2 linked regions of the Homo sapiens genome follow. The protein of the gene in region 2 interacts with the protein of the main gene of each other region in a pairwise test. Each region holds a gene or a part of one and is shown on either strand. Other genes may lie near its edges.

Region 1 (8,564 bases), on a different chromosome or scaffold from region 2:
CATAATTATATACCTCAAAAAATATTTTTTTATTGTTTTTACTTTTATTCATTGTACTTGGCATTTGTGCTTTATAATCCAAAGACTCATGTCTTTTCAGTTTTGGGAAGTACTCTTGTGTCATTTCTTTGATAATTTCTTTGCTGTACTTTTTCCTGCTCTCTATGGAACTCACTGGTTGTATCTTGGACCACTTAAATTAATCTATTAATTTTCTTATATTTTCTCTAAGAACAAAAAAATCTTTTTTGTTCTACTTATAAGAGTTCCTCAACTCTCTACATTCATATTTTCATGATGGAGCCTTCCCTCAAATGTCCACTAATCCTTACATTTTGGTTCACTTTGAAGAGCATGGCACTAAAAACTGGTTCATAACTCTTTTTGTTTGGGAAGTCGGGTGTAAACCTGGTTGTTATGTTCTAGAACTGGTCAAGTGAAGGAAGCAGAGATGTTCATTGTTCTATATACGTACTTCTACTTAATCATGTCCTCTCCCTTTAACCTCTTCACTCCTTGGTTCCTGGTGTCTCTTGAGTCTGCAGTCTCTCTTCTTCGTCTTGGTCCTTATCCAGTGGGAATTGGGGGGCAATAGTTGCTGGGGCTTAATGGATAAGAGTAGGAATGCCAGGGACTGACTGTTGACACTTTCTAATACTCCTGTTTCCAGCCCAACCTCAACCCTACTATTGCTACTTTTTAAACCTAGCTTGTCAACATTTCCAGGGTATTTGAGGCTCATTGGCTGCTAGTTGTTGTTCTTTTCCTTGGCACCTGCTTAGGTTTGCCCTGCCTCCTGTTTGCTACATCATTTACTATTCTTCTGTTTTTAGTCTGTGTGTTATGGTTTTAGTTAAAATATGTCTGCTGGACTTTTCAAAGATGGTATGTGTATATATTTCTCTTTGTTCTTCTCTTTATTGTTTTGGGTTGAGCAGAGTGAGGGCTTGAATTGCTGTCATTTTTAAGTACACTGTCTTCTCAGTTTTATTGTAAACATCTCATTAAATCTTCAGGATCTGACTTGATTCTATACAATATTCATTCACTGAATGTTAATGATGAAATTTCCAACTCCAGTTTCACAGGTTAAAAATTTATGTCATTACTCTTGGAATAATGTGGGAAATATCTTGGGAACATGTGAAATTGTGAATTAGGTAAAGTTAATTTTGGGAACACTCTCCCTGTATCTGTCTTTCTGGTATTATATCTTTCCTACCTAAAATCTAAAACTTTAGAACCTCTCTCTTCCCAAGTGATTAGATCGGCAGTTATTCAGTTGTTCGAAAAAGTCTGCTTGAAATGACAGTTCTCAAAATTAAACACATATGTACCTTAAACATTTTATTTCAATTTAAGACATATATGTACATTTATTCAACAGTCTTTTGATATAGAATCAAGGCCTTTTCTTAGAGTAGATCACTTACTAGAGTTCCATTTTAGTAATGCAAACCACACACACCCCAATGCATCAACTACATTTCTTAGTCAGGTTTATTGAGGCATAAATTTACCCTTATTAGGTGTACAGTTGTGCAAATTCATACAGTTGTATGAATGTTGAAAAACTTGTATGCTGTGGTGGTAAGAAACCACCAGAACACATTGACACTATCCAAAAAATCTTTTATTTTGCCCCTTTTTAGTAAATGCTCTACCTCCATCCGTAGCATCTGGTAACCCCTGATCTGATTTCTGTCTCTATATTTGTGCCTTTTTCTTGAGTGGCATAGAAATGGAATCATATAATCTGTAGCCTTCCCAGTTTTCTGCCATTGTCATGTTCTTATCTAACGTACCAGGTTTTTTGGCTCATCTTTAGAAATTTGCCTTTCTAAAAGCGAAGTCTTTCTAAAGCATTCACTAATTTTTGTTTGTTTTTGTTTTTGGTTTTTGAGATGGGGTCTCACTCTGTCACCCAGGCTGAAGTGCAGTCGTGTGATCTCAGCTCACTGCAACCTCTACTTCCCAGGCTCAAGCGATCGTCCCACCTCAGCCTCCCAAGTAACTAGAACCACAGGCATGCGCCACCATGCCCAGCTAATTTTTGCATTTTTGGTAGAGACGGGGTTTTGCCATGTTGCCCAGGCTGGTCTCAAACTCCTGAGCTCAAACCATCCACCTGCCTCGGCCTCCCAAAGTGCTAGGATTACAGGCGTGAGCCACTGCTCCCGGCCAGCATTCGCTAACTTTTAAACCTTCATTATAACTATGTGTTTACAATAGCAAATGTAACTGGAATAAACAGTTTCAGAGATGAACCCAGTTGACTGTGATAAGCACACAACTTAGCTGGCTGGAGTAGACATGTACTAAGTGTAATGTTTCCCTTGTATTTACATAGAAGAAGGGAGAGCATCAGCTAATGTGGTGAACTAGTAAGGGGAGGCAAGTTAGGAGCGTATCACTTGCATGCATTTCCCACTCCACTAGGGCATTTCTACCAGCTACTTGGAATCTAGTCATCATAAAAGTAATAACTGACACTTTGAAATTCGCTTTTCTTATAGTAATTTAAATTTTCATAAGATCTGTTTCAGATTTAAAAGATTTTAAGACCAGGGGTTTTGAAAGTTAGAGGGTTTTTTGTTTTTGACTTTACTGACTTACTTGACCTTCCTGAAATCATACCAGGAAGATAAATGTGTATTTGTAAGATTATCTAGACTGCTCTTTAGTATGGAAGAGTTGAGATGTTTATTTCAATTAGTTGCTTTTAAAAATATTGTTTAGGATTTGAAAATTTTTGTATTTGATAATTAATAGTTTAAATCAGTCAAATTCAAATTTATGGAAGTATAATTAGAATAAGACTGTAGCAAAGTAAAGAGAAACAAAAAAATTACTGAATTTGGGTAACTTTCCTCTGAATAAATACATTTTTTAAAAGTAGACACTTGTTTTTATAACTTTTCCATTATTATAATAGAACTAGAAAAAATGCCAAATAAGTTTTTAGTAAATATGAATTAAATACTAAATATGAAGATTATTGGTGCCCGACGGAATAGTTTTGGTGAAGTAAAAACAGGGATTGCCTGGTCGCAGTTTTTTGATAACAGGAAGTAGAGCTATAGGTTGCTTATTACGAATATTATTTATTGAATTTTGCATGTACAGAGAGATTGGGAGCATGAATGATTTTGGACGTGTTGGTCTATTAGAATTGTATATTTTTATAAACCTTTTTAGTAACTAGTATAAGGAAGTAACAATGGAATCAGCAATAGGGGACTGAAGTGCAGAGTCTTTTTTAAAATTTATAAACAAAGGTTTGATTGACTCACAGTATTGTATTGCATGGCTGGGGAGGCCTCAGAAAACTTACAATCATGGAGTAAGGCAAAAAAGCGGGCACCTTCTTCACAAGGTGGCAGGAGAGAGCACTCGGGAAACGGCCACTTTTAAAACCATCAGACCTTGTGAGAACCTGCTCACTATCATGAGAAAAGCATAGGGGAAACTGACCCAATGATCCAATCACCTCCTACGAGGCCCCTCCCTCAACACATGGGGATTACAGTTCGAGATGAGATTTGGGTGGGGACACAGAGCCAAACCATATCATTCTGCCCCTGCCCACCCCCCAAATTGCAGGTCCTTTTTACATTTCAAAACCAGTCATGCCTTCCCAACAGTCCCCCAAAGTCTTAACTCATTCCAGCATTAACCCAGAAGTCCAAATCCAAAGTCTCGTCTGAGGCAAGGCAAGGCAAGTCCCTTCCACCTATAAGCCTGTATAATCAAAAGCAAGTTACTAATGAGGGTCTTATGAGATGTCAAGATCTTGGAAAAGGTGGACCTTTTAAGTACTGCATATTTATTTTTCAAAAACCAAGGCCTAAAGAGGCCTTAATTTAGATAGTGATAATTCCTTGTGCCTCTGGGTGGGAGTATAAAGGAAAACATATAACAGAAGTTTTTTATTTTCTGGAATATTTATTTCAGGATGGCTCCAGAAGTTGCAGCTGTTGAGAGGAAGGGGGGTTACAATCAACTCTGTGATCTCTGGGCAGTGGGAATCACTGCCATAGAACTTGCAGAGCTTCAGCCTCCTATGTTTGACTTACACCCAATGAGGTCAGTGCATCATCATTGAAGAATCTTACGCTTAAGGTTTTTATCCTCTTAGTATGCTGTCATGAACAAGTAATTTTCTTAGTCTTGTTTTACCTTATTTGGGGAACAAATAGTAATAGAATTTGTGTAATAGATAAAAATGTGAAATATTAAAATGCTGTGTAATGATTTGTTGATTTTTCAGAGCATTATTTCTAATGACAAAAAGCAATTTTCAGCCTCCTAAACTAAAGGATAAAATGAAATGGTAAGTATTTTTATGTTATTTACTTTTATGGTGAGATGAGCAAAAAATGAATTGGAATGTAAAAGTCTAATTTTCTAAATTTCTTAGGTCAAATAGTTTTCATCACTTTGTGAAAATGGCACTTACCAAAAATCCGAAAAAAAGACCTACTGCTGAAAAATTATTACAGGTATTATTTTTGCCCTGAAATATATATATATATTTCAAAAGATAAAATGTTATTCAATCAGATTTATAGTAAGTGTTCTGCATTGTATTTAATTTTTATAGCATCCTTTTGTAACACAACATTTGACACGGTCTTTGGCAATCGAGCTGTTGGATAAAGTAAATAATCCAGATCATTCCACTTACCATGATTTCGATGATGATGATCCTGAGGTAGGAATTGCTTTTACCAGCGGGCATATATAACATGTATATGTGTATGTATATATGTGTGTCTGTATGTACGTCTCAAAATCCATTTTTTTAATTTTGGGGCCTAGTTTAAATAAAAAAGCTCTTGAGGGAACAATTAATTCTTTGTCTTTGCCTTTCATGGAAAGTCAAATGCTAGGTTTTTCTTACTGACTACTTATAGGTGACTATAGTGTGAAAATGGCAAAGGCATATCATTTAATCCACTTGTTGAAATCACTGTAGTTATTTCAAAATAGCCATTTTTGGTGAAGTTGCCAAATAATCATTCACTGTAAAAGGGAAAGCAAATGGGAAGTGCCTAAACAAGACATTTGAATATTCAAAATTTCCCCTCAGTTTGCTTCTCAAAAAGAATCCTCAGTTTGGCCTGGTGGCTCATGTCTGTAATCCCATCACTTTGGGAGGCTGAAGCAAGAGGATTACTTGAGGCCAGGAGTTTGAAACCTGCCTGGTCAACATAGCAAGACCCCGTTTCTATCTTTAAAAAAAAATTCTTATATAATACTTCATAAATTATTAGAGGTTAGTAGGAAGTATAGGCTTGACTTTGCCAGTGACTAAAACTCAGCTATTCACTATGGAAATGTTTTAAAATGAGCCAGTATAGTTGTTAATAAAATAATTCTAATATGACAGAAGCATTGATATTAATGGAAGCTTCACTTCTGTTTGCATATGTAACATTCCTAGCACTGCTAATAGTTGTGGCAACCAAGATAAATTCAGTATATGTGACATGGCAGAATTCTGTTATTGGGTCTGTAACAGAAGTGGATAGGCTTTAACTCTACTGGCTTTATGGGAGGCCCTTAAAAATATTGTAAATTTCATTAATGACTGAAGGTGAAGTGTTTAGAAAGACGGCCACAGATTGTCTTAAGTCAGAGAGAACCTTTCTATCAATTCAGCATTGTCCCAGCTTGCCATCTTATGATAGATAAGCTATTTGTCCTTTTGTTTAAGGGTCTGGAAAAGAGTTTGGAGCTTAAAAATGTAAGGAATGTAAAGTATAATTAATCTTATAATTATACTCTGAAGAAGTTTTTTTTGTTTTGTTTTTGTTTTTTTTTGAGATGAGTCTTACTCTATTACCCAGGCTGGAGTGCAATGGCATGCTCTCAGCTCACTGCAGCCTCTGCCTCCTGGGTTCAAACGATTCTCCTGCCTCAGCCTCCTGAGTAGCTGGGATTACAGGAGCCCACCACCATGCCCAGCTAATTTTTGTATTTTTAGTAGAGATGGGGTTTTACCACATTGGCCAGGTTGGTCTCGAACTCCTGACCTTGTGATCTGCCTGCCTCGGCCTCCCAAATGCTGGGATTACAGGCATGAGCCACCGCACCTGGCCTGAAGAAGTTTTTTGGTGTTGATTTGCTTAATTTTATTTTTAAGAAAGTTAAGTTTTACAAACTCTTCTAGTCTTATTTAGTATACAGGCAGTCCTTGATGTGCATGGTAGTATGGGACTGTAAAAATGACTGCATAAGCTAAAATTCTGCAAAGTAATCTTAATAATCAGGAAAAATTATAATTGTTTCATGACTTTTAAAATTTTTTGTTAAAGCATAAACTCTGTTACTGTCAGTTGTAATTGTAGAAATGTGAAAAAATAGTAAAACTATTATTTACAGTGTATTATAAATATTAGAATCATCGAGAGTTAATGTGTTTCATTTCTTTGTTAATGAACTTTTCATGCACTTTTTTTACTTATCTAGTAGTCTGCTTATTGAGTAGTTTGCCTTTTCATCATGTGTCTGTGACACAGAGCAAGTATCTTTTCTATGCCTTGGCAAATTGTCATATTGCTTTCTAATTTTCTTTCTAATCATGATCATGATGTGCATCTGTTATTTACGTAGTAATTTGTGAACTGAAAGGCTACCAATAAAGTTTATACTTTATGCAATTTCAATTAATATACAGTGGTAACTGTTATTTGAACCATGATGTAGGGAACTAGTGTTATTTAACTAAATTATGGTAACTGAAATTGGTGCATAACAAAGCTGTAAAACAAGGACTGCCTATATCCTTTTCAGTGCACTAAATGCTACATGATTGTTTCTTACCTCACCCTATGTACTTGTCATGTCTTTTTAAAAATGTACTCAAAGAACAGAAATAATAAACCAAATAGAGAAGCAATCTGTGGAATGAAGATTCTTCTAAAACTTTCTCATATAGCAGGGAAAGAAACTCATCTTTCTTATCCAGACATTGTTTTGGTATTATAATTATAAATTGTTACAAATCTCTATGGTAAGTAGGTAAAATAAAGGAATTTAATTATTCCAGGGGTAGGATGAGGGGAAGCTGTTACATTCCCTCTCACAGTAGCTTAGAATAATGTTTTTCTTAAGAGAAATTCATAACTTTTTTATTTGCAAATGATTTGTAATTGTAATTGCTAAGTGCAGTGTTGTCACTCAAAATACGAATGTATCTAAGAATTTCAGCACTTACTGTGATACTAGAACTATTGTATGCATACTCTTAAAAATAAGGGTGGGCTCAGTGGCTTATGCCTGTAATCCCAGCACTCTGGAAGACCGAGGCAGGTGGATCACCTGAGGTCAGGAGTTTGGGACCAGCTTGGCTAACATGGTGAAACCCCGTCTCTACTAAAAATACAAAAATTAGCCGGGCATGGTGGCTCATGCGTGTAATCCCAGCTATTCAGGGGGCTGTGGCAAGAGAATTGCTTGAACCTGGGAGGCAGAGGTTATAGTGAGCCAAGATCATGCGACTGCACTCCAGCCTGGGCAACAGAGCGAGACTCCATCTCAAAAAAAAAAAACAAAAAATAGAAAAAGAAAAATATATATATATGTGTATTTATCTATATATACATATATACACACACACACACACACACACACATATACCACATCTAAGTCTAGTTTAAGTTTTTTATAGGTTATGCACTGTGGAAGAAAGTTTGACTTTTTAATGTTGAGTTCCCCTGTAGTTTCTATTTTAGAAGTAATTACACACTGGTGTAATTCTAATTCTGATTTTTATTCAGTTTTCGTCTCCTATATGTAAGCCCACTTACTATGTACAGCATTATAAGATTTAACAATTTTATTAATCTGTTATGCTAATAAATTAATAATTTATTGTGCTGTTTAAGCCGGGAAGGTAAAACTGTTCTCAGAAATAATCATGAGTTTCATCCATGTTCATTAATAACAGTCTGTATGAGTAACCTGCATGTTACCTGTTTTTGTTTGGTTTTGCTACTGTATATTAGATCAAAAGTCTAGGGTTTTTCCTAGCTCTATGGCTAGCTAGCTGAATGCCCTGCCACTTAATTTTAAGTCTCAGTATCCTCATCTATGAAATTGAAGGGGTGGGTTGCCCCTCCACACCTGTGGGTGTTTCTCGTTAGGTGGAAGGAGAGACTTGGAAAAGAAAGACACAGAGACAAAGTATAGAGAAAGAAATAAGGGGACCCAGGGGACCAGCGTTCAACATATGGAGGATCCCGCCAGCCTCTGAGTTCCCTTAGTATTTATTGATCATTTGTGGGTGTTTCCCCGAGAGGGGGATGTGTCAGGGTCACAAGACAATAGTGGGGAGAGGGTCAGCAGACAAACACGTGAACAGTGGTCTTTGCATCATAGACAAGGTAAAAGAATCAAGTGCTGTGCTTTTAGATATGCATACACATAAACATCTCAATGCTTTACAAACCAGTATTGTTGCCCGCATGTCCCACCTCCAGCCCTAAGGCGGTTTTTCCCTATCTCAGTAGATGGAATGTACAATCGGGTTTTATACTGAGACATTCCATTGCCCAGGG
Region 2 (8,564 bases):
AAGAGGATAAAGTAAGGGAAGGCCAGAAGTTTGGACCATGCCTAAATTTCCAAGGCTACTGTTTTCCTTTTCAATACTTCCACAACCTGAAAAAGAGGGGAAATAGCATTTCTTGAATGCTTACCATATGCACATTGCCATGCCAGTTAAATATGACCAGTTGTCCCTGTTTGCGAGGGATGCTGTCAGTTTTAGCACTGAAAAGTCCCCTGTCCCAAGAACTATCTCCATCCTAGGAAAACCAGGATAGTTGAGTATTTCTCGCTTTACATATGAGTATAATGAACCCATAAGGAAACATCTTTTCTCTTTTACGGAGAGGAAATTGAGGCTCAGAAGGAATAAGATACTCTTTGCAAATTGCATGCTTATAAAGAGCCAGGATCTGAACCCAGATCTGCTGAGTTTCTCTACACCATAAGCCCTCTGAAGGCCATCAGACCCCTGCTGTCATTCAAGGGCTCAGCCCAAAAGCGCCTGCTATTTTTGCAGCTCTGTGCTAGATGCTGTGCTTGTTCCGATGAAGTGCTGAGATCTTATGGAGGCAGGCACACTCACAACCCCTCATGCCAGACAGCATGCAATCACGGGATGCTCTGTGGGGCTGAGGGAAGAAAGTGTGCCATGTGGCTCAAGGAGCCAGCAGTGACTTCCTAGAGGAGGTGAGATTTATGCTGGTCATTCAATGATAGGGAGGACACAGAATAGAGTCATTCTTAAAGAAAGCCCATGGGGATTCCCCTCAGGAGTGTCCTGAGCAGGTGGATACCAGTGCCCACGGAGGCTGCAGGGACAGTGAGAACAGTGGCTTGGCTGCAGAGATAGGAACAAGGCAGAGGTAAGGCTGGACAGTGAGGATAACATCACATTCCAGGTTCCCTGTCTCTGGAAGGATTGACACTTGTGCTCATGAGAATCTGGGAGTTGTGTTTTCTGGAACCAGAGGGAATATACTTGCAAAAGTATTGAAAAGTGATTTTGTTGTGTGGGGTTTATGAGCCCATGTGTGTTTATTTATGCAGCTCTTTGCTGGGACTCCCAGTTGGCCAACTGGGATGAATGATTTTGACTGTGGCCTTTTTCGCCTTCTCTCAGTGTGTGATAGGATTGATGATGGCAAACTTTTATTAAAGAGCACTTAACATAAGCCAGACACAAGTAGTAGCTAATTTAATCCTTCTAACAACACTTTGAGAAAGATGCTGTTTCATCATTACAGATCTGGCCTAACCAAACAAGTTCAAGCTGGCCCTTTTGGTCTACTAGTTGGTGGCAACATCATTTTTTCTCTTTGAACCTCATTTCTTATCTGAGTGGAAGAGAAAATAGCCCCTCCCTTGTCTAATTTCCCAAGGTTGCTCTGAAGATAAAAATGGTGAGGGTTGTAGATGAACCTTGTAAGCCACCGTATAAATATGGTCTTATTGATCTTAAGAAGAGTGGCCATTGCAAAAGAGAGCCAAAAAGAAGACTGAGCTTTGGTCAGACATATTTGGGGTTGAATCCATCTCTGCAACTCCTGGCAAGCTAAGGAAGCTTCCTCAGCATCATGCTTTTGTAAAATGAGGATGTTAAATTTTTGGGGGGTCACTAGGGGAACTGAATGAAATCTTGTGTATGAATCTTTTGGACACATTGTAGATATTGTCAATATTATTACATCTTTGGGCCCTTTTAGGCACCTCAGAATCTATTTCATGCTGAGTATATGAGGAGAGTCTCATACTGGAATGCCCTTAGATGACTGTTTGTATTAAGAAATTGTAAAACACTTAGCAACTTCTATTATTCTCCACAGTATATTTATTATGAAGATGTATAACTGCCAGAGAAAGAAACAGATACCTATTTGATTTATTTGATTGAGAAATGCAGTTTTTATTTTAAGAATTGTATTTTGATGATAGCTTAATATCTTTTTTTTTCTTCCCCTTCCCAGGATGAAGATGATGGTATGTTCGGAAACACATTCTTACAGCCTATAACTCATTCTTTCATTTTCCTGCTCAGGCATTCAAGTGGAATTGTTTAGTACAGGAACCCCATAGAATCAATTATAAGTCTTAAATTAGTATTAAGTAGACTTATGTCAATTGGCATACTGCATAACTATCGTAAAATGGATTACTTGGTTAGATTACCGAAGAAGACTAAATTCATGTGTAACAGTGCAGATTATTTAATTGTATCACAAAATGTAAAATTGCATGCATGGTTTGATGGAAACATTTCTCACATTTATGTCTTCTAACACACGTGGGTAAAGAATCAGTAACTGCCAATGAATGAGATAGCATAAAATTTTGACTTTCATAAAACAAAACTTGTAAATCATTTCTGAAATTTATAAGGTTTCCAGCTGACAATTTTCTGCCAAGTTAACATTTCAAAAATGAAAAACAAAATCAATGTGTATTTTAGAGTATCATCTAGATCTGCGCCCCTTTGTAAATGGATTCTATGGTGGTTAAGTCATCTAGAAACACCCTGGGAGCAAGGTTCCATCCTACTACTTCCTAATTACATCTGATCTGCTTTATTTTTGTGTCCTCTTTATACTAGCTGTTTCTAACTGGGGGGCGGTTATGGAATGTTTCTTAGTGACAGCTGGGGCCTGCCAATCTCATTCATTGTTTTCTACTTCTGCACAGTGCATCAGAGACCTTTGCCCCAGCCAGCACTACTTCCTATGAGCTCCAACACTTTCCCTTCAAGATCTACTAAGCCAAGTCCCATGAACCCTCTCCCATCCTCTCACATGCCTGGAGCATTCTCAGAAAGGTTTGTAGCTCTGTCATGAAATTCTAGCTTAATATAATGTTTAGGTCCATCCAGTACTGAAGTAATGCCAGGCAGATTGAGAAAGAAGGAAATGACGGGTAGATAGTAGGGTCTGAACATTTTGGGTCTTAAGACATAAAACCAAACTGAGCATTAAGAACGATATGTTAATCCACCAGTGTCCTCTGAGTCTCTGCTTGAGGTGAGAGGGGTGAGGAATTGACTTCCTCCTTGATCCCTCCAGATAGAATGGGCCTTTTGGTAGAAAACAAAGAATATTTTCACTTTATGAGTTCAAACAAACAACAATAATTAAGAAACCCAGTTAGTCTAAGTACTTGAAGTTCATCTGCATCTTAGTTGGGGAGACTGAGAAAATGCGCCTCGTGCTTGGCTGATGCTAGGAATTCATTGCAGTCTCTGTCCCCCTGTTTTCTCAGTAGCAGCTGTGTTTCTCAGGGCTGGTATGAGGCCGCCCAGGGGCAGATGCATGAACAGGAGAAAGGCCCAGTCATTGTCCCCAAACAAGCCCACGGGCAGCCTGTGGTGTCCCCCAAGTCCTCCAGCCCTGTAGGCTTACCTTCTCCCTTAATATTCAAGGAGAGAAGCCAAGATCCTTCCCTAATATTGTAGAAAACTCAACCACCCACAAGACTCATCTACCCCCACCAACTCCTAGCAGGATTCTCACAATGTTTCCTCTGCCCTGGGACCCTCTGGCCCTGAGTTTCTGCTGCTCTTCTCCCTCTTCCCGCTGGCATCTGCTGCCCTTGTCTGCTGACCCTCCTGCTGCTTTCCTCCATGCTAGCCCCAACCCCATCCTTCATTTGCACAAAATCCCACTCACACAAGGTTGCTGTGCAGAGCAGACTTTTCCCAAAGGTTTAGACTGATGGGTGCAGGAGTTGCTGCTCAGTGTGGAGGGAACAGACTGCATTTCAGGGCCCTCTGGGCCCGCCTCCCCACCCCAGCCCTGCAAATGCTATCACCGTCTGCTGCAGAGCCCACCTAACATGCACTTCCCTTCTCACCTGGCTTACTCTCTCCTTGCAGACCCTAAGCCCTGGGGATTCACTGCTCACCAAAGACAAGCCCATTAATATAATTTCCTAGCAAAAGGGAAGTCTTCTGAGAAGAGGACTTCTGTATTCTCCCAACTCAAAGAGCTCAAGTTGCAGCCAATTTTTAAAGTAACTGTTAAGTGCCCTTTACACAGTTGAATGTTGTTGCTGTTCTGCTTTATAAAGCTTGTTAGACTTTGGCATGGTCCACAGCGGAATGTAGTTCCATTCCCTGTGTGCTGTGTTCTGTCCCTGTGCCCAGCCCCCATGGTTTTGGGGGCAGCAGGGAAAGTGATACCAAATCAAGAAGCATTTGCAGCCTGGCTTCCCTAACCCAGCTCCCCTGTCTGGCCCCATCACCCCAATCCAAATAAATTTTGTTCTTTTTCTGTCTCCTCAGTAACAGCAGTTTTCCACAGAGTGCCTCCCTGCCACCATACTTCTCTCAAGGTTTGTACTCTGGGCTTTTGTGACGTGCTTCAGCCATCAAGCCTTTATGACTGGATCCCTAACCTGTCCCAAAAGCTTTCGACAAAGGTTTTATTGTTTCCTAAAAGCATCTGATTTCCTCATTCAACATTTAATTCCGTGTCTGCAGTGTGCCAAGGGCTGTCGGAATGATAGGATAGTACCTAAAACACAACACATACACACACACGTATACATATACATGCCCATACACACATGCACATATACATGCACACACACACATGCATACACATGTACACATATATACATGTGCACACAGGTATACACATATATACACATACACAATACATGCACACACATGCACATGCATACACACATACATACATGGACACACCTACACACACTTCACCAGGAAGCCAGCCCTCATCCCCAATCTTCCTGTGCAGAACTATTCCTCCAGCTCCGGTTTCCCTACGGAATCCTCAGAATCCTGTTTGCCTTTCTCTGCAGTTTTAGATTTCCATGATCAATCTGTCCATGGTTGTGAGTTGGGGAGCATGTTCAAAATACAAACTAAGAGAACTTAACGTCACAGATTCTGATTCAGTAAGTCCGGAGTGAAGTCAGGGACCTGTGTTTTTAATAATACCACCTCTGGACGTCCATGATTAGTATTCGCTTAGAGTGTTCTGCAACTTGAAAGTGCATATAGATCACCTGGGAATTGTGTTAACATGCAGATTCTAATTCAGGAGGTCTGGGGTGAGGCCTGAGTTTCTGAATTTCTAACATATTCCATGCGATGCTGTGACTGCTGGTTCATGAACCACTTTGAAAGGCACTGGGGCAGGACTAATTTGTGCTTTTTATCCTTAAAGACTTGCAAGTGACAGGCACTTGGTAGGCACTTTAAAAATGCTTGTCGAATGAGCATCAAATGACTAGGGAAAGTTACCCAACTCTAGTAAGTAGCATTCCAGGAAACTGGCTTAGCATTGCCAGATTTTCCAATTTTTTTCTCAAGAAAAGTGAAATTATTTAATTTTTAAATGTTGACTTAAATTTTTAAAAAATGCTGTGAAGAATGACAACAGAAAAGCCACTTTTTTTGCAGTCATGTTCCACATGCAGTGTGTGCACGGGCCAGTGTGTGTTCAGTAGAAAACTATGTTAGTAAATGTGAGTTGATAGCCTGAGAATCAACATTTTTTCCAAGAACACATCTAGGGTATTCAGTTGGATGCATCATTCCATAGAGGGGCGAGATCCCACTGCTGACGCCAGTGGCACCCACTAAGTTTTCAATGTTTTCTAAGCATTTGAGGTTATGGTGGTGTCCACGTTCACCACATGGTTTTCACAGTTTCTCGCCCAACCCCTAATTTTCCACAATCCCCAAAATTCTCTGTGTTTTGCAAACACACATTTGTGTTACCTCCTTGCCTCTGTAGCCATCTGAGTCCCAGACACATCACAGCATTATTTTCCAAAGCAAGTTCCACAGATCTCCAGTTTTATGAGTCTGTGATGGGGCTTATTAATGCAAATAGTTAATTATTTTTGGAACATTAGCTTGATCCAAATTGATCTCTTTTCCCCTAAGACTGCCAGGACACCTGGTCCTCGGTCTTCTCTACTGGTTCTACTGGTTGTTCCAACATCAGAAGGATAAAGTTTGTGCTGTGCATTGCCCAAAAACCTGTCATGACTCCCTTGAGAGTCTAGATATTAAGGGTGGTAGGTGACTGCAATAAAAAAGTGTATGTGCTTCTCTGTTGTAACTTAGAACTCTATGATGCTGGCCTGCAGGTGCAGAGGCAGAAAGAGAATCATTTCTTAACTGTAGAATGGCCATGCAATGCGGGCCTTGGTTCTGTTACTCTCCTGTATTGTTAGGTTTCATTCATTCAACAAGCATTATAAAAGTGCAAGTGTTGGACTGCAAAAAAAATGGGGATGGGGAAGATCTGTCTAGGCACTGGGAACTTGGAGAAGGAAGGCACTGGCAGCTCAGGGCCAGCTTGTTTAGAAACAGGGAAGGAGCATCTTAAACAATCCTGTTGATGTGGCTCAGGAGACTTGTTTAAAAACAGGGAAGGACCATCATAAATAATCTTGATGATGCGGCTCAGGAGGCTTTAGCCCTTACAGGTGACTCTCCTCTCCTCAGTGGTGTAACAAGGTAGACGTAGTGACAATCCGTGGTGTAGAACCACCGGAAGTACTTGCTAACATGCAGATTTCTGAGCCCCAGGTGCTCGCAAGTCGCCCAGGGATTCTGACTCATGCACAGTAGCATTTGGTAACCACAGGTTTAAGTTTTGGCTTTGCCACTGATAGCGCATGATTTGCTTAGCCTCTGAGCCTGTATTTCCCCATATGCAAAATGAAGACAATACCTACCTTGTAATGTTGCTGTGAGGATTAAAAAAAATGTACACACGATACCTTACTCAAGATCTGGACAGAGTTGTGCTGAATAAATATTTGTTGAAGGTATGAATGAATGATGGTTAAATAATTAAGAGAACATTTGACTCACAGAATTTTTCTGTTTTTAACCACAGCCTGGCACATAGAAAATACCCTGGGCAACTGCAATAAACACAACTAAACCTTTCCTGAGATTAGGAAACATTCTCCTAAAGTTTCAAGGAACTGTAAATGAGAAAAAAGAGTTTTAGAGAAGATGAGGCACAAGCACTGGGTAATTAATAGTTGCCCAGTAAAAACTTCCTGATCTGTAGTGCCTTCTATGTGAGTTGAACAGTCTACCTGTTTAGTTAGAACAGCGGGTAGCCAACTTTGATTCTAAAAGCTAGCAATATTCTCAAGGTAATTTTGTCTTCTCTTGGGTCACTTACATTTCTTTTTGTGGAAACATTAAGAACATAATTATCTTCATCATTGCATTGTCCCTACATCAGCTGTTGGGAATCCATTCTGCCTATGATGATATTATAAGAATCTATGAAAAATTTGTCTCTTGAGCATTCATTTTGACGTTCACATTCATTAAAACAATTGCGAATTTTTTTATAAAGGGATCTAGTCACTTTATATTATGTAACATGCACATTTAGAAAAATCACTCAAAGTTGAGGTTCTCTTCTCAAAGTTTTACTGGCATGATTACAGAATAATGCCTGAGCAGCCCCCATGGTTTCAAACAGATGAAAATTATTTTTGAAGCCCTTGTTTCTTAAAATGCGAACTATAGGACCAATCGCAAGGGTATTTTTTTGGGGGAGTGGGGGGAATGTGTTTTGTGTTTTGATAGCAGCAAACAATAGCTTACAGTAAATTAACTGTCAGAATTCTATACTTTTGAAGGCCCTAGCAACAGACCACCTATCAGAGCCGAAGGCAGAAACTTCCCCTTGCCACTTCCAAACAAACCTCGGCCCCCATCCCCCGCGGAGGAAGAGGTAAGAGAGCATGTTTTTATTTTTGTTTGTTTGCCTTTTCCCTGGTAAAAGAATCACCAGAAACTCCCATTGAATGTTCTTCTGTACTTTTATCTTCCCTTTGTTTTATTTTATTTATTTGAAAAAAAAGTTAAAGGAGAAGATCCAGATGAACAATATGTTCTTTTCCCTTGGCGTTCTTTCAGACGCTTTCAATGGCAAACATGTGTTTTGCATTAAACAGCAAGAAAAATAATCCTGTTTTTTATGTTTATGACCTTGATTCGTCACTTAACTGCTCAATAACCCATTTTTTTAATCAAGCAGGTTATTATGCTAAACTGAAGAAATTATTGTATCTGTATCTTTCCTGAAGAGGTTCCATACTGTAAGGAACTCTTATTCACAGGCATTTTTGCAACCAGTGTCATGATAAAAAGCAGTTCGCACAAAATATCTTCTATTTAGCCCCAGCTAAATGACTCTGAATGCAAATTAAGAAAACAAATGTTTCAGACCTCCTGGAATTGAGGTGTTGATTTATGGAAATGATTACTCAGAGGCTTTTCTTTTCACTTACATCTGTAACTGTAAAATTTATTCAGTTTCTAAAAATTTACATTTTCAGAATTCATTAAATGAAGAGTGGTACGTTTCTTATATTACCCGACCAGAGGCAGAAGCTGCTCTTAGAAAGATAAACCAGGTATTGTGCTATAGTTTATTTTAACATAGTTGTAAATATTAATGGCAGAGAAGGGAACTGACCTGTCCTGAGTACCAATTACAGGCTAGGAATTCTGCTAGGTGCTGTTGCTTTCTGTAATACCTAGGAGACCCATTAGTGCCAGCTTCACAACTACCAGCACCCATAGCAGGGATTCCT

What was found. Proteins that work in one complex are often made in the same cells at the same time.
Region 1: the proteins of LCP2 (region 2) and MAP4K3 interact in binary tests that used the Homo sapiens proteins (3 or more experiments, as listed by UniProt).

Annotation. Positions count from the first base shown.
Region 1 is NC_000002.12:39,321,668-39,330,231, reverse strand, and holds part of MAP4K3 (mitogen-activated protein kinase kinase kinase kinase 3), read left to right. Parts: intron 1-3,954; coding exon 3,955-4,086; intron 4,087-4,270; coding exon 4,271-4,333; intron 4,334-4,420; coding exon 4,421-4,502; intron 4,503-4,603; coding exon 4,604-4,714; intron 4,715-8,564. UniProt on the Homo sapiens protein: Serine/threonine kinase that plays a role in the response to environmental stress. Appears to act upstream of the JUN N-terminal pathway.
Region 2 is NC_000005.10:170,252,254-170,260,817, reverse strand, and holds part of LCP2 (lymphocyte cytosolic protein 2), read left to right. Parts: intron 1-1,939; coding exon 1,940-1,952; intron 1,953-2,651; coding exon 2,652-2,781; intron 2,782-4,242; coding exon 4,243-4,292; intron 4,293-7,604; coding exon 7,605-7,699; intron 7,700-8,247; exon of another isoform or gene 8,248-8,306; coding exon 8,307-8,384; exon of another isoform or gene 8,385-8,564. UniProt on the Homo sapiens protein: Adapter protein primarily involved in signaling pathways within T-cells, as well as other immune cells such as platelets, mast cells, and natural killer (NK) cells.